Homo sapiens: one gene and its partner. The protein of the gene in region 1 interacts with the protein of each later gene in a pairwise test. Each region holds a gene or a part of one and is shown on either strand. Other genes may lie near its edges. The genes, in order: DUSP13B and CALCOCO1.

Region 1 (2,877 bases):
CCTCAGCCTCTCAAGTAGCTGGGAATACAGGTTTGCACAACCACACCTAGCTAATTTTTCTTTTTTTTTTTTTTTTTGAGGCGGGGTCTCACTGTGCCACCCAGGCTGGAGTATAGTAGTGCAATCTCCACTCACTGCAGCCTCAACCTCCCAGGCTCAGGTGATTCTCCCACCTCAGCCTCCCAAGTAGCTGGGACTACTGGCATATGCCACCATGCCTGGCTAATTTTTGCATTGTTTGTAGAGATAAGGTTTTGCCATGTTGCCCAGGCTGGTCTCGAACTCCTGAGCTCAATGAATCCTCCCGCCTTAGTCTCCCAAAGTGTTGGGATTATAGGCATAAGCCACAGTGCCTGGCCTGAAAAGGAGTCTATTTTTTGTTGTTGTTGTTGTTTTTTTGAGATGGAGTCTAGCTCTGTTGCCCAGGCTAGAGTGCAGTGGCATAATCTTGGCTCACTGCAACCTCCGCCTCCTGGGTTTAAGTGATTCTCCTGACTCAGTCTTCTGAGTAGCTGGGACTACAGGTGCCCACCACCATGCCTGGCTAATTTTTGTATTTTTAGTAGAGATGGGGTGTCACCATGTTGGCCAGGCTGGTCTCAAACTCCTGACCTCAAGTGATCTGCCCACCTCGGTCTCCCAAAGTGCTGGGATTATAGGCGTGAGCCACCGCACCCAGCCCGAAAAGGAGTCTTAAACTCCAACAGGAGGAGCCCCTTCACCCTGGGCCAATTTGCAGGCTCTTGTCTCTACCCTTGGTGGGTGGTGGGCGGGGGTGTTTGCAAACTTCAACCCAGCCAGAGCTGCCACAGTGAGATCTACCTCCACTCTCCTAACCCCTTGTGCCCTCTCCTCCAGGTACGCAGCCCGGGACAAGAGCAAGCTGATCCAGCTGGGAATCACCCACGTTGTGAATGCCGCTGCAGGCAAGTTCCAGGTGGACACAGGTGCCAAATTCTACCGTGGAATGTCCCTGGAGTACTATGGCATCGAGGCGGACGACAACCCCTTCTTCGACCTCAGTGTCTACTTTCTGCCTGTTGCTCGATACATCCGAGCTGCCCTCAGTGTTCCCCAAGGTGCACTTCTGGATCAGGCATGGTGGAGGGTGGAGGGTGTGCTTTAGGACTCTCCATTATTCCAGTAGCACTGGTGGGTGGGAGTCCAGAGAGACAAACCCTTTCAGTAACCCTCCCACTCCATAGGGAAAATAGCTACTACCATTCAGTGAGTGTCCCCTTCAGGGACACCCTGGAGGCTAGCAATTGCAGACATAACTAAGATGCAGTGTGGTCATCAGCATCACCACATCCCTCCATAAGAGGCCAGGCACTGGACAGAAGGTATAGGACCCAGTGAAGCTCTTGAGCGGGTTCCTCTAAGATGAGGCCTTGGCATAGAGCTGCAGGGGCAGTCGAGAGGGCAGAACTCGGGGGAAAGGGAGGTAGATGGACACCCCCTATAATCTGATGCAAACCCAGTGACCTCAGGAATTCAGTAAACCCCCTTCCCCTGGCCCAGAGTTGCAAAGGATGCCTGAGGAAGCACCTGGACTGGAAGAAGGAAATCCCGGCTGCTAACCTAAACCCTGCCTCTAACTTGCTATGTGACTTTGAGCCAGCCTCCTCTCTTTGGGCTTCAGTTGCCCCATTTGACAGAGTAGACAGTGTCAGTATTCCAGGATACTGTAGAGGATGGCCATGGGTGTCTCTTCTTCCCAAAGGGGTGGGTGGTTCAAGGGCAGGTAGCTGATGCTAAGTTGGTTCTCCCTACAGGCCGCGTGCTGGTACACTGTGCCATGGGGGTAAGCCGCTCTGCCACACTTGTCCTGGCCTTCCTCATGATCTGTGAGAACATGACGCTGGTAGAGGCCATCCAGACGGTGCAGGCCCACCGCAATATCTGCCCTAACTCAGGCTTCCTCCGGCAGCTCCAGGTTCTGGACAACCGACTGGGGCGGGAGACGGGGCGGTTCTGATCTGGCAGGCAGCCAGGATCCCTGACCCTTGGCCCAACCCCACCAGCCTGGCCCTGGGAACAGCAGGCTCTGCTGTTTCTAGTGACCCTGAGATGTAAACAGCAAGTGGGGGCTGAGGCAGAGGCAGGGATAGCTGGGTGGTGACCTCTTAGCGGGTGGATTTCCCTGACCCAATTCAGAGATTCTTTATGCAAAAGTGAGTTCAGTCCATCTCTATAATAAAATATTCATCGTCATAAAGACAGGTGATCTTTTGGTGGTCTGTGGGGCAAGGACTTACTCTCGGGATGGTCACAAGGTTCCAGATGGCTTGCCAACTCTGATTCAGTGGGATGGCAGCCTCGGGGAGGAGTACAGGTGGGAATAATTCGTGATATCTGCCTTGGGTGCAGGAGGAAGGTTTGGGGGTACAAGTGTGAGGATTAGATAACCTCGTCCTCATCTTGTCCTCCTCATCTTGTCCTCCTCATACCCTCACCCAATAGTTAGGTTGTCTGATAAAGACCCAAGTTCAATGCATCACCATTATCTCCATGCCCATCCTACCCAAGGCTAAATATCAAAATTCACTGTCCACTAGTAGCATCTCTTGAAACCAGTCAGTCTTTTCACTAGCACTCTGCTTTCAAACGGACTGCTTAAAATTAGACTCCTAACAAATTAAAGCATTAAACAAGAGGATGATGGGGTTGGGAAGGAGACATACCAGAAATACTAGGCAAAGGACAGTTATATGATGGAACAAAATAGCTCTGAGTTTCTTAGTTCTTATCTTGGCACAACATAAAATAAAACAATAAAGAAAGGCCCCCTCCCAGGTTCCTCACCTGTAAAATACATCATAAAAACCCAAGGTATTTATGGGGTTTAAATGGGCAGCTTTCCTCTACCTCTCTGGC
Region 2 (7,300 bases), on another chromosome or scaffold:
GTAGTGGGCTCAGAAACATTAAAAGTTAGGCACAAAGGACAAGGAAAAATAAACGAAAATAAATATAATGAGAATATATCCAACAGCGCTCAGCGGATAGAGAATCACGGGATTATCGCAGAATCAGGGACATAGAAACAGAAGGAACTTCAGAGGGCATCTAGTCCCCTGTCCTACCCAAAGAAGGAAAAATGGGGGAGTAAGGAAGAGGGAAAGGTAGAATTATGTGGTGAGAAGAGGGAAAGACCTGGGTTCAAATCTCACCTCTAACACTTACAAGCTGTTTGGCCTTGGGCAAATTACATAACCTCCCTGTGTCGGTTATCTTAACAGTAAAAGGGGATGCCTGGCTTATAGGGACATTACGAGGATTTAAAATGAAAGCTGCAGGCCAGGCGTGGTGGTGCATGCCTGTAGTCCCAGCTACTCACAAGGCTGAGGCAGGAGAATCTCTTGAACCCGGGAGGCAGAGGTTGCAACAAGCCAAGATCGCGCCACTGCACTCCAGCCTGGGCGATGGAGCAAGACTCTGTCTCAAGATAAAATAAAATAAAAAGTGTTACCACAGTGTCTGGTACATGGTACGCACTCACTACATGGTAACTAGCATTATTATGATTATGATAGAGGGGCAGTGGGTTTGGGAAAGAAAGGAAGGAGAGGGACAGGCAGAAAGGAGGGAGAAGAGTATGGCCTGTGGGAGGTGGAGAAGAGAAGAAACAGTATATGGAACACCGAGCAAGGGGCTGGGGCCAAGGACAGTGGATTATTGGGGTCCTGGGTCCATTCTTCTTCCCACAGCCAGCTACCTGCCCAAACCAGGAGCTCAGCTCTACCAGTTCCGATATGTGAACCGCCAGGGCCAGGTGTGTGGGCAGAGCCCCCCTTTCCAGTTCCGAGAGCCAAGGCCCATGGATGAACTGGTGACCCTGGAGGAGGCTGATGGGGGCTCTGACATCCTGCTGGTTGTCCCCAAGGCAACTGTGTTACAGGTGAGAAAAGAGCAACAGAGTTATTCCCAGACAAGGGAGTGGGAGACAGCATTGCAAGAGGACCCTTCCCACCTTACCCTCCCCTCATCTGTGGCGCCAACTAAAGACCTCGTTGAAAGTTAGACAAAGTCCTGCCTCCAGGAGAGTCTCAGTCTAACATAGACATACACGAACATGTAAGGCAGGAAAGGAGACCACCCACAGGCCAGTGTAACTCAGGATTTCATAAGAACTTTTGCAGCCTTCCTTCTCCATGCACTGCATCCTGCCCTATGCCCTAGAGGAAGATCAAAGGGTGGAGAGAGGCTACTCCAGGGAACATTCAGAGAAAGGGGAGCACAGGACCTGCTTCTAGGACGAGTGGGGAGTGAGAGCAGATAGGCAAGGCCCCAGACCTGTACTGTCCAATACCAAAGGCTCTTAACTATATATGGCTCTTGAGCACTTCAAATGCAATTAATCCAAACTGAGATGTACTATAAGGGTAAAATATACTCCAGATTTTGAAGACTTAGTATTTTTTAAAGAGAATGTAAAAGACTTCAATAATTTTTATTTTGACTACATGTTGAAATGATACTGTTTGGGGTTTTTTTGTTTGTTTTTTGGGTTTTTCTTTTCTTTTCTTTTCTTTTTTTTTTTTTTTTTTGAGACAGCCTTGCTCTGTCACCCAGGAAGATGTTTATATCTCACGTAAGTGAAAGATGTGTGAGCTCCTACTCTCTGTTGCGGTTTCACAATCGTGATTCTCATTTGAGCCTTACAACAATTCAGACTAAGGGATCATGTTACAGATGAGGACACAGAGACTTAGAGAAGTTAAGAAGCTTGTTCAAAATCACATAGCTAGCTGGGTGTAGTGGCATGCATCTGTAGTCCCAGCTACTGGGGGAGACACTGAGGTGGAAGGATGGCTTGAGGCCAGGAGTTTGAGGTATGGTATGCTATGGTTGCACCTATGGCTAGCCACTGCACTCCAGCCTGGGCAACACAGTGAGACCCTATCTTTAAAAAAAATCACATAGCTAGTAAAAATTGCACTGAAGATTTGAACCCAAGTCTGTCCAACTCCAGAGCAGATAGGGTAAAATTAGGGGACCCATCCCTTGTGTCTGTGTTCATTGACTTGTGCCACATGAGGGATTCCTGCAATTGCTGGATGAGGAAAGGGCCAGGCCTAGAGTGGGGAGGGGTAAGAGAGATGGGCAATTCAGAGTGCCATGAGCTGGTGCATCTGACTGGGTGGTGGACGGGATTCGGTAGCACACTGAGCATCCCCTTCCTCACCTCTTTATAACCCAAAGCTATGTAACTTCCCAAACCCAAAATGCACCTGGAGAGTGGTGAGGATGGGACCTTAGAAGGGGTACTCCACCAGCACACTCCCCTTCTCCTTCTGCTGCCTGTAGAACCAGCTCGATGAGAGCCAGCAAGAACGGAATGACCTGATGCAGCTGAAGCTACAGCTGGAGGGACAGGTGACAGAGCTGAGGAGCCGAGTGCAGGAGCTCGAGAGGGCTCTGGCAACTGCCAGGCAGGAGCACACGGAGCTGATGGAACAGTACAAGGTGGGAGCTGGGCCAGGTAGGGGACAGGGCCTGGCTGCTCACCCAGCATCCAAAATCTGAACCCAGTGAAGAGGGTGAAGGAGAGATGTTAGTGGGCTTTTACAATGGTTCTGGCATCAAGGAAATAGGTTTAAGGGGTAGTGGCTGGGATTAAACTTGATGTGACAAGAGACATGTTCCAAACGTGTAATGAGACTCAGTTCTTTGAACATAGGAATGCTGGGGTAAGGTGGAGGTGGCCACGTTGATAGGTAAGGGAATGTTCCCTTACAGTTTCTTTTTCAAGGAAGGCAATGTGATAGCCAGGTGGAAGCAGTCAGACCCTGGTGTGCTCTTCCTAAGCCTTTGTTCCACCACTTGAGAGATGAGTCCCAACCTCCCTTTTCTTCTGGGGGAAACTTAATTTCAGGGGATTTCCCGGTCCCATGGGGAGATCACAGAAGAGAGGGACATCCTGAGCCGGCAACAGGGAGACCATGTGGCACGCATCCTGGAGCTAGAGGATGACATCCAGACCATCAGTGAGAAAGTGCTGACGAAGGAAGTGGAGCTGGACAGGTGAGGGGAGTCCACTGACCCCGTCACTTCCTCTCCCTTCCATGACCCCCGCACTCCAGCCCCCTCTCTCAGGCAAGCAGACCTGCTGTCTGCCTCACACGCTTTCTCTTTCCCTCTCACCCTCACTCAAGCTAGTTACTGGGGATACCCTTTTCTGCCGAGCTCTCTACCATCTTTCCAAATGCTATTCTGTATTCCTCCACTTCAGAAATAATCATAGTTACCACTTATTGTACAGCAAAAGCTGAGCAAGAGCTAGGAGTGGAGGATTTGGAAGAAGAGAATGGATGGAAGTCAGTGCAAGATAAGAGAGGATGGATTTCAGATGTGGCCACAGGAAAGATAAGATTAGACTGTGTTCTTACTATTAAGAAACATTATAACTGGTGATCCAGGAATGTTATGGAATCTCTGCCCTGGAAAAAAAAGATGCAAATCATAAACTCTTAGCACTGGGATTGTAAGATATGTATGAGGGTATGTAAGAGGTCACCCTCAGGAGGCAGCCTCTTTAACATTTGACAGCTGTCATTTTTGTATCTCTTGTATTGAGCCAAACTCTCCTCTCCTATAACTTACCAGGGGGTCCTGAGACCTCTGGAGCCACACAGAATAAATTTCTTTCTTCTTCCAGAAAATTGTTTTCTCTACCAAGTAGCATAAATATTAACCACCACCTCCCATGTCCATCCTTCAAATTTTCACCAGTTTAAACACTCTAGTTCCTTATTTCATTAAATGACAAAATTATGTTTCATTTACTACTGGTAGGTGTGATATTTTAAAAAACTGTTTAAAAGAAAGAGGCATTCTATCCAAGGCCCAAAGTAATAAGTGAGTTCGTCTGAGAGGCTTCTTCAGGATATGTTAGTCTCACCCTAGGGAGATATTAGATGTCTACATTCTAAGTCATAGGTTAGAAAAGCAGTGGTCAGATTGAGCATCTGGAAAAGATTAGGGGCTATCTAGACCAGAGGTCAACAACTATGGCCCACAAGCCAAATCTAGCCTGCCACCTGTTGTATATCCCACAGGTAAGAATAGTTTTTACATCTTTTAATGGTTAAGAACAAATTAAAAGAAGAATATTTTGTGACATGTGAAAGTTGTATGAACTTCAAATCTGTGTTCAAGTTTTATTGAAACATCATGCTCATTCGTTTACATACTGTCAATGGATGGTCCTGCACTACAATGGCAGAGTTGAGTAGTTGCCACAGAGACCACATGGACTGCAAAGCATAAAATCTTTACTATCAGGCCCTTTACAGAAAGAGTCTGCCAACTTCTGGTCTAGATCAAAAGTTTATAATCAATAATGACTGCCCTTGTCTCAAAAAGACTAGATTCTAGTCTCTTGATTGAGTGAAAACAATGGGAGCCATCAGCAAAACATTCCTTAAAATATTACACAAAAAGATAAGAAAAACTATTTCTGTCTAAATTGTTCTCTAGAACCTGGAATCTTGGTTTCCTGGGGCTTAGAACTGGATCAGCTGGCTTGGGGATTTATGCATCCCAGAGTGAAATGGAGCTCTGGGCCTAGAGCAGCAGCAGCAGAGCACAAGACAGAGGCCTGAGTCCATTCCTTCTCTGGGTGGAGCAGATTGTCTGACATGTCATCCCACCAATCACAGGCTTAGAGACACAGTGAAGGCCCTGACTCGGGAACAAGAGAAGCTCCTTGGGCAACTGAAAGAAGTACAAGCAGACAAGGAGCAAAGTGAGGTAAGGGGCTCAGAGTTGATTTGCTTTCTCCATTGTCCAGCCAGTGTTTGATTCCCTCTCGAGAGCCAGACACCAAAGGGAATAAAAATGTAAAGAAGACATTGTGTGCACTCTACTAGGGAACATAAGACATATACCTAAATCAGGATTAGTCAGAGTGGAAAAGTGGAATATAAGAGTGTCACAAGAGAAATTTTTTTTGTTTGTTTTTTGGAGACAGAGTCTTACTTTGTCTCCTGTGCTGAAGTGCAGTGGTACGATCTTAGCTCAGTGCAACCTCTGCCTCCTGGGTTCAAGCAACTCTCACGTCTCAGTTACCTGAGCAGCGGGGATTACAGCCATGTGCCACCATGCCCAGCTAACTTTTGTATTTTTAGTAGAGACAGGGTTTCACCATGTTGGGCAGGCTGGTCTCGAACTCTTGACCTCAAGTGATCCACCCACCTCAGCTTCCCAAATTGCTGGGATTACAGGTGTGAGCCACTGCGCCTGGCCTCAAGAGAAATCTAATAAAGTATTGTGGAGCTCCAGGGAGGTGTATGAGTACACATCTTGTTAGAGACATTAGAAAAGTCTTTTTAAAATGGGTGTGGAGGCCAGGCACAGTGGCTCATGCCTGTAATCCCAGCACTTTGGGAGGCAGAGGCAGGCGGATCCCCTGAGGTCAGTTCAAGACCAGCCTGGCCAACATGGTGAAACCCCATCTCTACTAAAAATACAAAAATTAGCCAGGTGTGGTGTCAGGTGCCTGTAATCCCAGCTACTCAGGAGGCTGAGGCAGGAGAATCACTTGAACCCGGGAGGCAGAAATTGCAGTGAGCCTAGATCACACTACGGCTCTCCAGCCTGGGCAACAGAGTGAGACTCTGTGCCAAAAAAAAAAAAAAAAAAAAAAAAAGGGAGGGCCATGGCTGGGCGTGGTAGCTCACACCTGTGATCATAACACTTTGGGAGGCCAAGGCGAGAGGATTGTTCAAGCCCAGGGGTTCAAAACCAGCCTGGGCAACGTAGTGAGACCCCATCTCTACAAAAAATTTTAAAAATTAGCCAGGCATGGTGGCATGCACCTGTAGTCCCAGCTACTCAGGAAGCTGAGGTGGAAGGATTGCTTGAGCCCAGGAGGTCAAGGCTGCAGTGTGCTGTGATCGCACCCCTGAACTTCAGCCTGGGTGACAGAGCAAGATTCTGTCTCAGAAAAAAAAGGGGTGGGGTGTGGGGCCTAGTACTTTCAAACCTTTTTAGCAGAACCCTTTCCTCTCCTCCCACCAATAAAGTTTTTAATCTTGTGTGGAATCTCACTGAATAAACAAAAACAATGTTTTATTACTATAAATTTATTTTTATAAATTTGAATGTATAACCTTTACTTAAAAGGTAATGAAAGCACTTAGGTAATTTTGAGGCATACCAAACTTTGAAATGAGAGGCTATCGAAGACTGTTCTGCCAGCCTCAGCAACTAATGTATTTCCGTATTTTATTTTGGTTGTACAATATCAAGAACACCTTGAGTCACACACAAGTAGGTGCAAATAACAATTTTTAAACTGTCCACCTTGCAACTCAGTTTACTCTTCAATTCAATAGAAAATACAGTAGAAACTATTCTGAGCTTTGCAAAAAAATGAATTAACCTGGAAACATATGTCAATTGGTGATCTCCAGTGTGTTAACTTGTGATTTTATGGGTTTTATTTGTTTTGTTTGTTTGTTTTGAGACGGAGTTTCATCTTGTTGCCCAGGCTGGAGTGCAGTGGCGCGATCTCGGCTCACTGCAACTTCTGCCTTCCGGGTTCAAGAGATTCTTCTGTCTCAGCCTCCTGAGTAGCTGGGATTACAGGCACCCGCCACCACGCCCAGCTAATTTTTTGTATTTTTAGTAGAGATGGGGTTTCACCATGTTGGCCAGGCTGGTCTGGAACTTCTGACCTCAGGTGATCCGCCCACCTCGGCCTCCCAAATCATGCCGAGATTGCAGGCATGAGCCACTGCACCTGGCCTTGTGTTGTTTTTCTTTTTTTAACATAATTGTTAATAATTTAGAAGACATTCAAATCAAGTATCTGCAGAACTCCTAAATCCCTTCTTCAGTACCCTGGGTTTATGTGGAAGATTGTTAAAAAACCCTTTGCTCAGCAGTGAGAATAGGTAGAATATGAGTAGACAGAGATGAGTGTGAGGCTATTCTAGGAACAGAGAAAGACGTGAGCAAAGGCTTAAAGGCCAGAACACTCAGGGCAGTTGAATGTGCGGGTGAAGTGTTTGAGATAAGGCCTAGGTTAGACTGTGGTGGATCTTGAGCTTCATTTTTATTCCACAAGCGTGAAAGGCTTTGATGATTTTTCAAGCAGGGGTGACGTGTACTGTACTTATGGCCAGGTGTAGTGGCCCACGCCTGTAATCCCAACATTTTGGGAGGTGAAGGCAGGAGGATCCCTCGAGCTCAGGAGTTCAA

What was found.
Region 2: the proteins of DUSP13B (region 1) and CALCOCO1 interact in binary tests that used the Homo sapiens proteins (3 or more experiments, as listed by UniProt).

The regions. Positions count from the first base shown.
Region 1 is NC_000010.11:75,093,777-75,096,653, reverse strand, and holds the end of DUSP13B (dual specificity protein phosphatase 13B), read left to right. Parts: intron 1-858; coding exon 859-1,079; intron 1,080-1,775; coding exon 1,776-1,978; 3' UTR 1,979-2,218; downstream 2,219-2,877. UniProt on the Homo sapiens protein: Dual specificity phosphatase that dephosphorylates MAPK8/JNK and MAPK14/p38, but not MAPK1/ERK2, in vitro. Exhibits intrinsic phosphatase activity towards both phospho-seryl/threonyl and -tyrosyl residues, with similar specific activities in vitro.
Region 2 is NC_000012.12:53,717,285-53,724,584, reverse strand, and holds part of CALCOCO1 (calcium-binding and coiled-coil domain-containing protein 1), read left to right. Parts: intron 1-801; coding exon 802-992; intron 993-2,401; coding exon 2,402-2,560; intron 2,561-2,969; coding exon 2,970-3,118; intron 3,119-4,755; coding exon 4,756-4,846; intron 4,847-7,300. UniProt on the Homo sapiens protein: Functions as a coactivator for aryl hydrocarbon and nuclear receptors (NR). Recruited to promoters through its contact with the N-terminal basic helix-loop-helix-Per-Arnt-Sim (PAS) domain of transcription factors or coactivators, such as NCOA2.